Homo sapiens: one gene and its partner. The protein of the gene in region 2 interacts with the protein of the main gene of each other region in a pairwise test. Each region holds a gene or a part of one and is shown on either strand. Other genes may lie near its edges.

What was found. The genes of interacting proteins can lie anywhere in the genome.
Region 1: the proteins of RAPGEF4 (region 2) and BMERB1 interact in binary tests that used the Homo sapiens proteins (3 or more experiments, as listed by UniProt).

What each region holds. Positions count from the first base shown.
Region 1 is NC_000016.10:15,429,654-15,437,599, reverse strand, and holds the start of BMERB1 (bMERB domain-containing protein 1), read right to left. Parts: upstream 3,013-7,946; 5' UTR 2,947-3,012; coding exon 2,841-2,946; intron 1-2,840.
Region 2 is NC_000002.12:172,731,782-172,738,851, reverse strand, and holds the start of RAPGEF4 (rap guanine nucleotide exchange factor 4), read right to left. Parts: upstream 3,008-7,070; 5' UTR 2,869-3,007; coding exon 2,804-2,868; exon of another isoform or gene 2,462-2,803; coding exon of another isoform or gene 2,427-2,461; intron 1-2,426.

The sequences.
Region 1 (7,946 bases), on a different chromosome or scaffold from region 2:
GGTGCTTGCTGCAATTTTCCTGCATGTTTCAAATTTTTTCTCATAAAATGTTAAGATATAAAAAGCTACAAGGGCATTATTGAAGAATTGACCAATATTTACATAATTCCTTGCAAAGAGTAAAAGCAGGTTCTGTCTATAAATGTTGTGCAGTAACCGAATGGAAGTGAACAATACGTATTGAGCACTTAACCTTGAGTACTATATGTATCATCTTATTTAGTATACACAATAAAGACATAATCTCTATTTTCAGAAAATGAAGGCAGAGTGAGGCTTAGCAATACTCCTAAAGTCACATAGCCAGCAAGGCACAGAGTGAGGATTCAAAGCAGCACTCTTGTGAACAGCTTCCATTCTGCGTGGACCCAGCATTTTTTTAAGGCCTCTGTGAGCTTCAGAGAGCAACAGGGCTGCCACATAATTATAAAATCACTGAGCATGTTCTGTGACTATCTCAATAGACTTAGGAAGTTTTCTGAAACCATGAAAGCAATAAACCTTCATGTTAAAAGCAGGCTCTGGGGTCCAACAGACCGGGGTTCAAATCCTGGTTCTGCCACTTAACTGTCAGATCACCTAACAAGTCCCAGTTTTGTTTTGTTTTTTTAAATCTATGCAAGATTTTAAATTTATATTTAAATTTTTTATTTTAAAATGTTTTGTTTTAAAATTTTTATTTTAAAATGTTTTTTTAAATCTAGGCAAGATTTAAATTTATAAATCTTAGTACTGCAGGAGGTTGTTGAGGGGACTAAATGAAATGATGCATTTAGAGTTCTCAGCACATGGTCATCTAGCAATAAAAGGCAGCCATTGTTGAGATTATTTTGAGCTTGTAAGAAACAAGAGACCCTCATGGAGATACAGAGTAGAATGATGGTTACCAGAGGCTGGGGAGGGTATTGGGATGGGGGGACACAGAGATGGTTAATGGGTACAAAAATATAGGTAGATAGAATGAATAAGATCTAGTATCTGATAGCACAACACGATGACTACAGTCAACAATTTATTGTACATTTAAAAATAACTAAAAGAGGGCAGGTGGGGTGCCTCACACCTGTAATCCCGGCACTTTGGGAGGCCAGGGCAGGCCGATCACCTGAGGTCAGGAGTTCGGGACCAGCCTGCCCAACATGGTGAAACCCCATCTCTACTAAAAATACAAAAGTTAGCCAGGCATGGTGGCGAGCACCTGTAATCTCAGCTACTCTGGAGGCTGAGGCAGGAGAATCGCTTGAACCCAGGAAGTGGAGGTCGCAGTGAGCCGAGATTGTGTCATTGCACTCCAGTCTGGGCAACAAGAGCGAAACTCCGTCTCAAAAAAAAAAAAAAAAAAGCTAAACTAAAAGAGTATAATTAGTCACACAGCTGGGCTTTTTTAAAAAAGGAGTGTAATTGGATTGTTTGTAACACAAAAAAAAGGATAAATGCTTGAGGTTTTGGATACCCCGTTTACCCTGATGTGATTATTACACATTGTATGCCTGTATCAAAATATCTCATGTATTCCATAAATATGGACACCCACTATGTGCACTTAAAAATTAAAGAAAGAAACAGAGACCCTCAGCCCTGACGCCCTGATATTATGCCAAAGCACCAAGTCATTGGGTCTTGAAAGGATGAACTAGAAAGAAAGACCAAGGTTAAAAAGGGAGAAAAAAAAAGAAAAGGAAAGAGGTTGGCAGTGCTATGACATCCATCCTAGCCCATGAACCACTAAGACATTGGATTGTGATTTCAACTTCAACCCGTCAGAATCAGAACACAGTTGAGCCCTTCTAGGAAGATTTTCTAAATCCATAATTACAGGTATAGAGAAAGAAAGCGCGCACACACAATTTTCCACCAGGTGAGGACAGAATAAGATCACATTCACAATACTTTAGCCCTACATCGCTCAGAGATCCGTGCTGGGGCAGAGCGCGGAGCAGTGACCCAGAGCCGAGGCAGGAAGCTGCCGGGTCCCTGAGAAGGACCTCTCCTTCCCAGCCTGGTGGGCAAGCCATGTGAGAGCAGCGGCTTTGGGGAGCCCCCGGGTTTGCAGGGACCTCCAGTGACCCTGGAGCCCCTGACGCTGCCTCTACACTTTGAGGGCAGGAGTTTCAACTATTGTATCCTATTAATGAAAAACAAAATCCTTCGTTTACTTAGAAATGTTGACATCCAAACACCGCAGAGAGAACCAGTAAATAAATACAGCCGGTCTATTTCGAAACTGCCTTCTAGAGTTGTGCCCAAGCAGACTTTAACTGAGTCAAGAGAGAAAAGAGAACGGTGTGTGCCTTTTGACCCTTTTGCCGCCCCAAGCCTCCCACCCCGACCCAAGGAAGGCGAGGGAGGAAAAGCTGGGAATTTCAGGTGCGCTCCGAAACCTCACGCAGGGGGTAGGAAAGCAAGCGGAAAACCAGCAGACACTCCCCCCTCTCCAGGGACGTGGGCGCTTTCCAGGACGGTCCCGCGTCTCCAGCGCCCTGGCGCATCCCAGGCGGAGAGAGGATCCTCCTCCCTGGGCTGTGGGAGAGACCCGACTTCACAGGACCAGCTGCGAGCTGACGGATCCGGGACTCCTAAGTCGAGCCCAGGCTCCTGCCTTAGCTGCCTGGCCATCTCCCAACCCTCCCAGTGAGGCTCAGCCCGGAGGGTCCCCCCCTTTTGTTCGCGGGGAGAGCGCGTCGCTGCGCAGAGCTGCGTATCCCCCTGAGCTGCCAGCCCCGCTGCGGGGGCGCTTCCCTGGGTCCACTGCTGGCGTTCCTCGCGCTCCCGCGACCACCCGCGCAGGCGCATGGATCCCCAGCTGTCCCCGGCCCCCCGCCCCCCGCCCCAGTACTCACTTCTCCCCAGTCTCTCCGTTTTCCAAGCCGTCTCCTCCACCGCCCCATAGCGCCTCAGAGGCTTCTCGGCTTCCAGATGGGTGGACAAAGATTGCTTTAATTCCATCGCTGATCCCCGTGGCCAGGTCGACGGGTCTCCCTTTACTCCATTCCCGTTGCGGGCTGCAGGGAGGGAGGTGGCTCCAGCCAGCAGCGTTTTAACGGGCCGGGCGCCCGTGACGCTGCTCCCTCTCCTCCGCCGCCGCCAGCGCCCGGGAGCGCCTACGGGTACCCAGAAGGGGCAGGGATGCACGGCACATGCGCAGTGGAGGCTTGGAGGGGAGGCTTGGGGGCTGGGTAGGGAGACAGAGGGGCAGGTGATAACTCTAAGAAAAACAACAAACAAAACAACTAAAATAAAAGCAACACAAAGGAAGTGAGAACAAGGCCCCTGCCTATTCTAGAGCCCCTAGTGATGCTTGGCATGGGGCTGGCACTGTGGGCGGCTTGCGAGCTGTAAGCCGGCAGCGGGTTTTGAGTGGGATTGGTGAGCCCGTCTCTACCTGCGGGCGATGCATCCGTCTTTCTGGGGAGCATGCAGAGGCGTGAGTGTGGACCTAGATCTATGGGTTCTGGGCTTGGCTGACTGCTTTTCTGTGAGAATATCTGTCGTGTGCGTCTGTTTAATTTGAAGTGCGACAGTGGATGCCTATGTCAGTTCCATATGTGTTTGCATGCACTTTGGGGAGAGAGAGAGAGAGATGAAAATATTTTGCACACAGGTATAGCAGAGCTGTTTGGAGCATGGGGCTTTACTTTCCAGAAACCCCAGAGGTTTATCTTTAAAAACAAACAAACAAACAAACAAAAAACACCATGGCAGTGCCTGGGCACGATGGCTCATGCCTGTAATCCCAGCACTTTGGGAGGCCGAGGTGGGTGGATCACTTGAGGCCAGGAGTTTGAGACTAGCCTGGCCAACATGGTGAAACCCCATCTTTACTGAAAATACAAAAATTAGCCAGCTGTGATGGCGCAGGCCTGTAATTCCAGCTACTCGGGAGGCTGAGGCAGGAGAATCGCTTGAACCTGGGAGGCAGAGGTTTCAGTCATCCGAGATCATGCCATTGCACTCCAGCCTGGGCAACAAGAGGAAAACTCCGTCTCAAAAAAAGAAAAGAAACGAAAAAAAGAAAATGATATCCCAGTAGGAAACAGGGAAAGAATATGAATAGTCATGTCATGTGGGCAGAGGAGGAAGGCCTAATGTGAGAAGCTGCTCAACCCCCTTAGTAATAAGGAAAATGAAAATGTAAATAAGAATATATCATCCGATAGGCAAAAACTAAAAAATCTAACAATCATGTGTTGTAAAAGATGTGGATTTTTTTTTTGAGACAGAGTCCAAAAATGCTGGGGTTACAGATGTGAGACACCATGCCTGGCATAATTTGAACTTTTATCTAATGCTAGTGGGAGTATAAATTGGTACAACTGTTTTTTTCTCTCTGTCACCCAGGCTGGAGTGCAGTGGCATAGTCTCGGCTCACTGAAACCTCCACCTCCTGGGTTCAAGCTCCTGAGTAGCTGCGACTACAGGCGTGCCACCATGCCCAGCTAATTTTTTGTATTTTTAATGGAGATGTGGTTTCACCATGTTGGCCAGGCTGGTCTCGAACTCCTGAGCTCAAGTGATCTGCCCGCCTTGGTCTCCCAAAGTGCTGAGACTACAGGAATGAGCCACTGTGCCTGGCTGCATGAATGTAATGTTTATTGTTCTCAGGTATATATGTATAACTCTACAAATTATATATAATAGCGCTATTTAACATTTTCTTATAATTTATACAAATGATATCATACTTTATAATTCTGCAAGTTGCTTTTTTCTGTTGTTGTTCCACAATATGCTTTTCTTCCTTTTAAAAAGATAGAGACAGGTTTTCACTGTGTTGCTCAGGCTGGTCTTGAATTCCTGGGCTCAAGTGATCCACCTGCCTCAGCCTGCCAAAGTGCTAGGATTACAGGCGTGAGCCACCGTGCCCGGCCCACATTATGCTTTTGAGAAATACGAATTCTGATTCATGTAACTCTGGTTCATAGTCTACTGTATAGTATTCTACATGAATGAACCATAATTGGTCTATTTTTTCATTGATGAGGTATAAAGATTATTCCCAATTGTCCACAATTACAAACATGGCAGCAGCAAATGTTTTTATACTCATTTCCCTGTACGACTGAATAGGAGTTTTTCTAGGGGGAAAAATTACAATGGCATGGGGTATGCACATCTGCCAGTTGGACTAGAGTGTCAACCTGCTTTTAAAATTAGTTGTACCAGGCCAGGCACAGTGGCTCACGCCTGTAATCCCAGCACTTTGGGAGGCTGAGGCGGGCGGTTAGTCTGAGGTCAGGAGTTCGAGACCAGCCTGGCCAACATGCTGAAACCCCGTCTCTACTAAAAATACAAAAAAAAAAAAAAAAAAAAAAATTAGCCGGGCCTGGTGGCGCACACCTGTAATTCCAGCTACTCAGGAGGTTGAGGCAGGAGAATCACTTGAACCCGTGGGACGGAGGTTGCAGTGAACTGAGATCATGACACTGCACTCCAGCCTCAGTGACAGTGAGACGCTGTCTCAAAAAAAAAAAAAAAAAACAATAAACATTACATTCAGGATAGTAATTACTTTAGGAGGCTGGGAAAGGGTAAGTAGTTAGTTTCAGCTATATCTAAAATTTATATATTTTTAAACTATTTACAGTATTTTGAAAATTTTTAAATCTACAGAAAAGTTGCAAGTTTAGTACAATAAGAAAAATACAGACCTTGGCCAGGTGCGGTGGCTCATGCCTATAATCCCAGCACTTTGGGAGGCTAAGGTGGGAGGAATCCTTGAGCTCAGGAGTTCGAGACCAGCCTGGGCAGCAAAGCAGTTTTCCATCTCTACAAAAATTAAAACATTAACCAGGTGTGGTGGCACACACCTATAATTCCAGATACTCAGGAGGCTGAGGTAGGAGGACTGCTTGGGCCTGGGAGGTCGAGGCTACAGTGAGGCAAGACCACACCACTCTACTCCAACCTAGATGACAGAGTGAGACCCTGTCTCCAAAATACACACACACACACATATATATATATAGTTTGTGTGTGTATATATACAGTATGTGTATATATACGTTATTTTATATAATATGTATGTTATTTTCTTGTATATGTGTGTGTATATATACAATATATATATATATACACACGCACACACATCCCTTACTAGATTCACTAATGAATATTTAAATTTATATTTCTTAAAAGAGATCTGAAGCATATATGTTAAAATCTGTTGGAGATGGCTGGTGGGCACTACACCCTTACCAGAATGACTAAAATTAAAAAGACTGACAATACCAAATGTTAGTCCAGATGCTAGTAAATAAATGAGTTAGCAGTTAGTAAGAATGTAACTACAATTTATTGCTGTTCGGAGTATAAAATGGTACTACCACTTTAGAAAATGAGAGATAATGGCTGGGCGTGGTGACTCACGCCTGTAATCCTAGCACTTTAGGAGGCTGAGGTGGGCGGATCACCTGAGGTCAGGGGTTCAAGACCAGCCCAACATGGCAAAACCTCGTCTGTGCTAAAAAAATTCAAAAATTAGCCAGGCGTGATGGCACATGCCCGTAATCCCAGCTACTCAGGAGACTGAGGCAGGAGAATCGCTTGAACCCGGGAGGCAGAGATTGCAGTGAACTGAGATTGCGCCACTGCATTCCAGCGTGGGCGACAGAGTGAGACTGTCTCAAAATAAAAAAGAAAGAAATAAAAAAAGACTGGCAATACCCTCTAAAGCTACAAATACATATATATTTTTCTGTCTGGCAGCAATTCTATTCCTGGATATATCCCTAAGAGAAATACATACTTGTGTCCACCAATGTTAAGAGCTTTACTCATAATGACAAGAAATGAAAACAACTCAAATGTCTATCAACAATAGAATGGACAAAAATTATGCTATATTCATACAACTGAATCTGCACAGCAACGAAAAAGACCAAACTACTGGCCAGGCACAATGGCTCACACCTGTAATCCTAGCACTTGAGGAGGCTGAGGTGGGCAAATCGCTTGAGCCCAGGAGTTCGAGACCAGCCTGGGCAACATGGCAAAATCCCTTCTCTACAAAAAATACAAAAATTAGCCAGGCATGGGTGGTGTGTGCCTGTAGTCTTAGCTACTCAGGAGGCTGAGGCAGGAGGATCACTTGAGCGTGGGAGGTTCAGGCTGCAGTGAGCCGTGATCATGCCACTGCACTCCAGCCTGGGCCACAGAGTGAAACCCTGTCTCACAAAAAAAAAAAAAAAAAAACAAACAAATTACTACCAACAAAATGGATGAATCTTACAGACATAATATATAAATAAAAGGGTGTGTATCCCTTAAAAGACGGTTGGTGCATTTAGGGATCTTTGTCATGTAATTATCTCTACATTAAAATATTTTATAATTTAAAAAAGAAAAAATACATCTATTGGATCTAAAAATTCAACTCATGGAAATCTACCCGAAGGAATATCTGAATTACTAAAAATACATTCACACAATATATTTTTTTTACAATTTATGTAAACTGTAGAAAAAATTAGAAAAGGGTCAGTATCTTACAAAAGGGAAATGGCTAAACTTATGGTATGCCTGCAATGTAACACTGTACACTTATTTAAAATGATGTTTACAAAGAAATGTAATAGGGAAATGTCATAGGGAAAACATAGCACAATTTAATCAAAATATCAGGAAAAGTAGAATACAAATTGTAATATAAAGTGTGAGCTGTCATTCTGGATCTTTTGGCTAAGATCAAGTGCACACTGTAATCTCAATCATATTTTATAGAATGATAATGGTAGAAATTTAAAAATACTGTGATTCCTTTTTTTTTTTTTTTTTGAGACAGAGTCTCGCTCTGTCACCCAGGCTAGCGTGCTGTGGTGGGATGTCGGCTCACTGCTCACCTCCCGGGCTCAAGCAGTCCTCCCGCCCAGGCCTCCTTAGTAGCTGGGACTACGGGTATGCACCACCTTGCCCAACTAATTTTTGTATTTTTAGCGGAGATGTAGTTT
Region 2 (7,070 bases):
TTTTTATTTCCAGTCCCAGGGTTTCTCTTTTTTTCACCATCCACAACAGTTGTCACTTGAATGAGGCATATATTTGAACTGTGTTTCCCAGTTACGTCCTTTTCCCAGTTGAAAGGTCCCAGCATCATATTCCCAAGTGAACCCACATGGGTTCATTGTACTTTCTCTTTTGTGCAGGGTTGAAAATGTCCATAATAAAAAAGATTTTATAAAAATAGAGCATACATTCCTATACTCTAGATTTGGTCACAAGAGGAATTTGTGGTTGGGAAGAAATTAGCATATTCATATGCCACACCACTCCCTGGCATGCCCTCCCTATTCTGTGCCTGGTAAAATTGTTCTCAGCCTCTGAGTTCTAGGCAGGACACCTATGGAAGTATCTCGATAACTCTCTCATCTGCATTCCCAAAGCACTTTATACATCTCCATTAAAGCACTTACTATTGCATTGTGGTTAGCTGTTTATAGAGCCGTCCCACCACCAATCTCCCCTACCCTCTAAGCCTACAAGCAACTCTCATATTTTGTTGCATCCCCAGTGCCCAGCACAGTGCCTGGAAAAGAAGATCAAGATAGCATTTAAAAGAGGATCAAGATAGCATTTCACAGTGCCTGGAAAAGAGGATCAAGACAGCATTTCTCAGAAACATTGAGGGCAGTGTCTCCACTAAACAGGTGTTTCAGGGGGCTTCCCTAGCCAACTTCCATAAACACTCTCAACCTTTCTCCTTTCCTAAAAAAAATAAATAAATAAACAATCTAAGTAAAAACACAACTTCAAAACAAGTCCCCCCATGGCCTTCATACAATGAGATTGCTGCCCTAAACTGTTCCTCATTGGAATTAATTCTGGCATGAACACTGCAGAACATGCAAAGTTCTTTTAATACCACAAAACAAAAAGCCTACATGGCACTCACAGTTTTCAAACTATTTCACCTTTTTTTTCTCCTTCCATTTGTCCACTTATCCCTGATAGTCCTATCCTCATTTTTCAGACACTCAAGGAAGTAAAAGTGACATGTCCAATATCAGAACTGGTAACAGCTCTGTGCCTAAAACCCTTAACTTATTGATCTATCCACTCATCTGACTCTTCTGATGCTAGGCTCAGTATCTGTGAAGGGTTTTTTTTTTTTTCCTAGATTTTTTTCCCATTATGAATGGTGGCATTAAATGGGGGCACCATGCTCTAAAAAATCCATTTCAAGCAAAATCATTTAGGCAGATACACATTATGAAAAGAGAGAGTCGAATATGTCCCACTTGTGTTAGTATTGCTCTATGATTTTGCCATAAGTACTTCTTATTGACTAACGGGTTTCCAGTGAATTACCGACTGTTCAAAAAATGCCATGCCATGCATTTCTACACATAGAAATATGTTATTATCTAAAAATTTTGCTCATAAGGAAGCACTACTATTTATAGGTTAAGTGCAAGATCCTGAATCCCATATAATTCCTTTTTCCTGAACTATTAAATGTAGATACTTATCACATTAACAACCTCTATACTTTAAATACTCTTAGTTCTTCTACATAATCCTGTGTGATTTAACTATTACTTTAATTCTCTTACTATTTATTGCATGCAACTCTTTTAATATTAGTACATATCATTTTAGACATAAATAGGGCACTACCTGCCAAAAAATCTTGCTACTGAGTGGTAATTGAAAGTCAAGATTATTTCTCAGATATATTAAGCTTTTCAAATGAGCTACATTTAGCTTTTCTCAAATTACTTAATATTTTTCAACAAAGGCCTATAATAGAGTATGCAAAGCACGTCACACTTAAGATTTTCAAGTTTGATCTGGTTACGAATCTGTTAATTGAAAATTTTTCAATATGGCAGAGCACAAAATATTTCACACAAATGCAAATAGAGATGTCATGCAGATAGCTGCAAGACGTGCATCATTGCCCTTCTGCATCAAACTCCGAAATTCAGAGGCAGTTCACTCTGCAAGATTTCTTGCTCAGTTCTTAAAAGTTCAGATGCATCACCTTTTAATCAGGGTAATAAGCTATAATTGCTAACATACTGTGTAACGTTTAAACCTGCAATCTGGACAAACAGAAAATTATGCTGTCACAGCCTGGAAACAACTGCAATCCACTGTTAACACACACATCCTCCTTAGAGAGAGCTGTCGTCGGGAGTTACATGCTTTATGGTTTTAATTATTTTTAGCGTAAAGATCTTTTCCCGAGAAGCAGGTATTAAGACGAAAGCAGCCTCCCAAATGACCTTCTCTAACACAGACCTTGAGCGAGCGACTGCGGGGGCAGAGAGCTGTGAATTTCAGCAAGGGATTCGACAGCTCCACCGGGTCCCTCACACTTTGCTTTCAAGAACAAAAAAAGAATGTTACTCTGCACCTGCCGGTGCCCCCACCCCTCTTTAAAACTTCATACCCCGCAAGGTCTGAATAGCCGGAAAGGGTATGCATCGATTCTTCTGTCCCGTGATGCCAAGAGAAAATAAACCCCCACCCAGGAGCGGAGCCTGGAGTCGCGGCAGGGCAGGGGGTTGGAGAGGTGGGTGCTCTCTCCCCTTACTGCGCTGCATTTTCTCCACCACGTGTAATAATCTCATGCCGCTGGCACCCCACGAGAGGCGGGGATCCTTGTCCTCCTGTCTCCCGGACGAGGACCTCAACCCCTTCCCCCGCTCGGGGACCCCGGCCACCCGCAGCCCGGCCGCGCTGCGCCCAGGTGCGGAGCTGCGGCGGTCTCAGGGCCCGGGCAGCACCGCAGAGCTCGGCCCCCGGCTGCGGCCCCCGGCGAGCTACCTTTTATCCAGGCAGGCGATCCACTCGGCAGAGGAGGAAGAATGGGCAGCGTGCGCAGCGACCATGTTGAGCGGCGGCGCGCGGTGTCCCTGGCTGCGGCGACCTCCCGCGCTCGCTCTGCCTGCGCCTCCGCCCCCGCCTCGTCCGCCGCGCGGACCCCGCTCCTCCCGGACGCCTGGCGACCAGCGCGGCTGCGACAGGCCCGCCCTCCCCGCGGGCTCCCGCGGCCTGGGGCGGTGGGGAGAGGGAGGGGACCCGGGGGGCGGGACGCGGGTGCGGGGAGGGCCGAGTCGCCCGCCCGCCCGCCGCTGCACTGCGGCGCCCGTGGGTGGGGATTCCGCCCCGGGGTGGGGACCCCGCGGTCCCGCTGCTGGGGGACACTGGGGGTGGCGACCCCGGTGGCCGGCCACCTGCGACAGGTGTCCGCTGCGTCCCTCGGAGACTGGGGCCCCACCCTCACCCCGGGGCCTCTGAGGCGGGGCGGGAGGGCAGGCGCCAAGGCAGAGTGGGGAGAGGGCTGCCAGTGTCTATATATTTTTCATACAGCAAATGCTACTAAAATGGCTGCTGCCTCTCTGTTTCCTTAGAAACCCATGAGTCTTCCTCAGCAGCTGTCGAAACTTGCCGGCGGTTGCTTGCTCACCTTTGCTGTCTCCCCTTCAGAAAAGGCTGGAGGGGAGGGCGAGGAAGGCTTGGCGTGGGGACGCCCGTCGAGTCTCTCAGTGAGGAATGAGAGGCCAGCTTCTCCTGCGGGGTGAGGAAGGGCTGGGCGCAATGGGGGGCAGTGCGGGCAGGGCTGAGGGGCAGGGAGGGAGGAGGCCGGTGGGCCCGATGTGGTCTGAGGGGGTGACAGGCTGAAGTCACTGGCCTTGAACCCTGGGCCTGCCTGGGCTTCCATCACCTGCATGGTGAAGAAAACACAGTTGAGAATGGGGAGTAGCCGGGCCACAGCAGAACCGAGACCCCGGACGCGCAGGTGAACTTGTATGGCTGGCCCCCTTGCTGTTCTTCCTCTGGCTGGAGTGTTGAATGGGTGGTGATAACGGCCTGTCTCTTGTAGATGTTCACACAAATGTCATGTCTACAAGTTATTCAGTTACACTCTGCCAAGAACCAAATTACACGCCAATGGTTGTTTAGGAATTTGCGGACAAGTTAAATGTTTTGGACTATTACCAAGCACTGTTTTGATATTTATGGCACTACATTTGGGGCCAGACAATGGGGGAAAGGGACATAGCATTGCTTTCTTCTACTGTTCCCTGCCTCCTCCCCCCACCAAACCTCCTATCCAACCCTGCTCAGGGGAGAGTCAGGGGGACTGGAGAGAAGGAAAGAGCAAGTGCTTTCTGGGATGCTTTGATCCTAATAAAACAATTATTACCATGATATAAAAGCCTCCAAATATGTGCCATTTCCCTCTGCTGGATAGCCAGGATCTAGTTTCAGACCTGCCACAGTGTTCCCACAGCAACTCCTCCCTCCCTGCTCAGGGCTTTTCCCCCAGTTAACCTTCATTCTGTTAATTTCTATCATGTTTATGCTAATATTTAAAATAATATACTATAGAAAGATTAACCAAAGGTATTTATGTTGTGGCTTTTTTACTATACAGGTATGAAGGAGGAACTGTATCTCCTATATATATTAAGTTTCATTTATAAAGACATCAGAGAGCACCTGAGAATGTTTCAAGGTCACCAAAAGCTTTCTGAAAATGCCTTTCTGCAAAGAAGGTTTCCAGGTAAGGAGCTAGAGGAGAAAGGAGCTGCACATCACCTGTCATCACACAGAGGCTCAGAGTTGCCATAGCTTTGGTTATGATACTAATAATAGTCGCCATTTATTGAACATCCACTGAGTGTTAGACCCTGTGCAGTACTCCTTACATGTGTGATCCCATTTAATCTTCAGAACACTCTATGAGGCAGAGCCAGAAAGACACTACTCCACAAACAGCAATAAATATCCTTGAAAATGTAGTGAAATATTGAAAATGATATGTATCAGTACTTTCAGGGAGAGTGTTAATTGGATTGGAAGGAAGACACTGATGAGCTGCTGGGAGTGAGAGTGAGACCCTCGAGGAGTCCACAGTGCATTTTAAGGAGTGTAGCTCTGATGAACTGCAAGGCCTTTGTTTTGCTGTGTGGGGGCCCTGCCTCTTCTCTAAAGAGAAGTTGAAGACTTATTTAAAGAACATCCTTTCGAAGGAGAACCAACAATCACTAGCTTGTCCAGAGCATGCTCATGTCTTCATCCAGCCCTGGAGGTAGGTACAAGTAACTCCAAGATACTCACTAAGACACTGAACTCAGGAAGGGTCCATAACCCAGCTACAGGAGATGGGGCCCCGGAGTGGAATTTGGGTCTGTCTGATTCCAAACCCTTCCACATCAGTGATGGTGTCCCTGTTTCTGCCAATAGAATGGGAGTATAGGGCATGTCTACAATGACTGTCCAGAGGGTAAGAACAAAATAGTTATAAATCAGTTTTTTAATGTAAAAATAGAGAAATGTGTGAGGAATTAAAAAACAGAGATCCTTAAAACATCAGGAATAGCTTTACTGTCCTATAGATTATCTTGTGATCTGAAAGGGATTTGATTGCTGGTCAAGAACTACAGGAGTAAAGGAAACTCTGTTGATAATTAGTTATTATAGTATTAAGAGGAAGAAAACAGGCTTTTGCTTGGATTGGATGGGAAAGGCAAAGAACCAAAGAATATTTATTCATTTCCCTCTCTTTAAAAGAACACAATATATGTCAGTCCCAAAAGAGCATATGTTGTATGATCCTATTTATGTGAAACTTCCAGAAAAAGCGAATCTATAGAGATGGAAAATAGATTAGGGATTGCCTAAGGCTGGGAGGTGGGAATAAGGGATGACTGCAGATGGGCCTGAGAAATCTTCTAGAAATGATCTAAAATTGAACTGTGGTGATGGATACACAACTCTATAAATTTAATAACAATCATCAAATGGTATAGTTAAAATGAGTGAATTTTACAGTATGCAAATTATCTCAATAAAAATGTTAAGTAAATAAAATATTAATAAACCTATATGGAGAGGAAAAATAATATGATTGATCTTTTGGGGGGAAACAGAGAAAAATATAGGAGAAAAAGTAAAAATTACCCATAATTCCATAACATAGAGGTAATACTGTTAATATTTTAGTGCATTTAATTCTAAACTTTTCTATTATGAAAAGATACAATCAAGGCCAAGCACAGTGGCTCACATCTGTAGTCCCAACAATTTCGGAGGACAAGGCAGGAGGATTGCTTGAGGCCAGGAGTTCAAGACCAGCCAGGGCAACATAGTGAGACCCCCCCCATCTCTACAAAAATTAAAAAAAAATTAAAAATTAGAAGTGATATGATCATACATGTACCCACAAACACATACATATAACTAGCTATGTGTATGTATATGTGTGCATATATGTATGTGTATAGATACATGTATTCAAACAGACTTGAAAGCATTAATAGTTTATAGGCTACTTTTTCTATTGGAATGGAAAAATGCTTTACTTTCCTTAAAAAATCCTTAAACATTTTTTCCTGGCCACCAAATATTCTAGTGTACAGTTATAATTTACTTACACTATCTTTTGAGACTTGTTTTTTCACTTGGAAAAGGTATTATCTGTTTAATCTCCTTCCTATAGTTTAGTGAATTCTTTCTCTACTAGAGAACTAAGATCTCTACTGAAGATCTCCATGAGACAAGGATGAGACAAGACCAATATCTGTTAATGCTATGTAGATCCTCGAATGAGTTGCTAAAATGTCTGATTTCCATTTTGTTCATCTGAGCAGAGGTTCAAAGTTAGGAATTTGAAGGCAGGCAGCCAAGTTCAAATTGCAGCCATATCTTCTACTAAATGTTTGGCCTTAAATTAACTACTTAGCCTAAGACTCCGTTTCATCATCTGTAGAGTGGAGAAATTAATAGTATTATACATGAATTTGGTATTTGTAAGATATTTAGCATAAGTGCCAAGCACATAGTGAGTGTTCAATAACTCTTAGCTATTATTCTCCATATAGTGCAAATAATACTAGGTGCTCTCTGCATTTCACAGGGACCTGGTGGTGATAAGCTGTCGAGATCACTTATGCTAAAGGGCTTCGACATCTATAAATTGCAAGTTTTGGCTATAAAGGATATGAGGGATGGGTCTCCTGAGAAACCCATAGAAATTCTCCAGGAAATTCTATCATAGATTGGGCATTCACTCATATCCGTATAT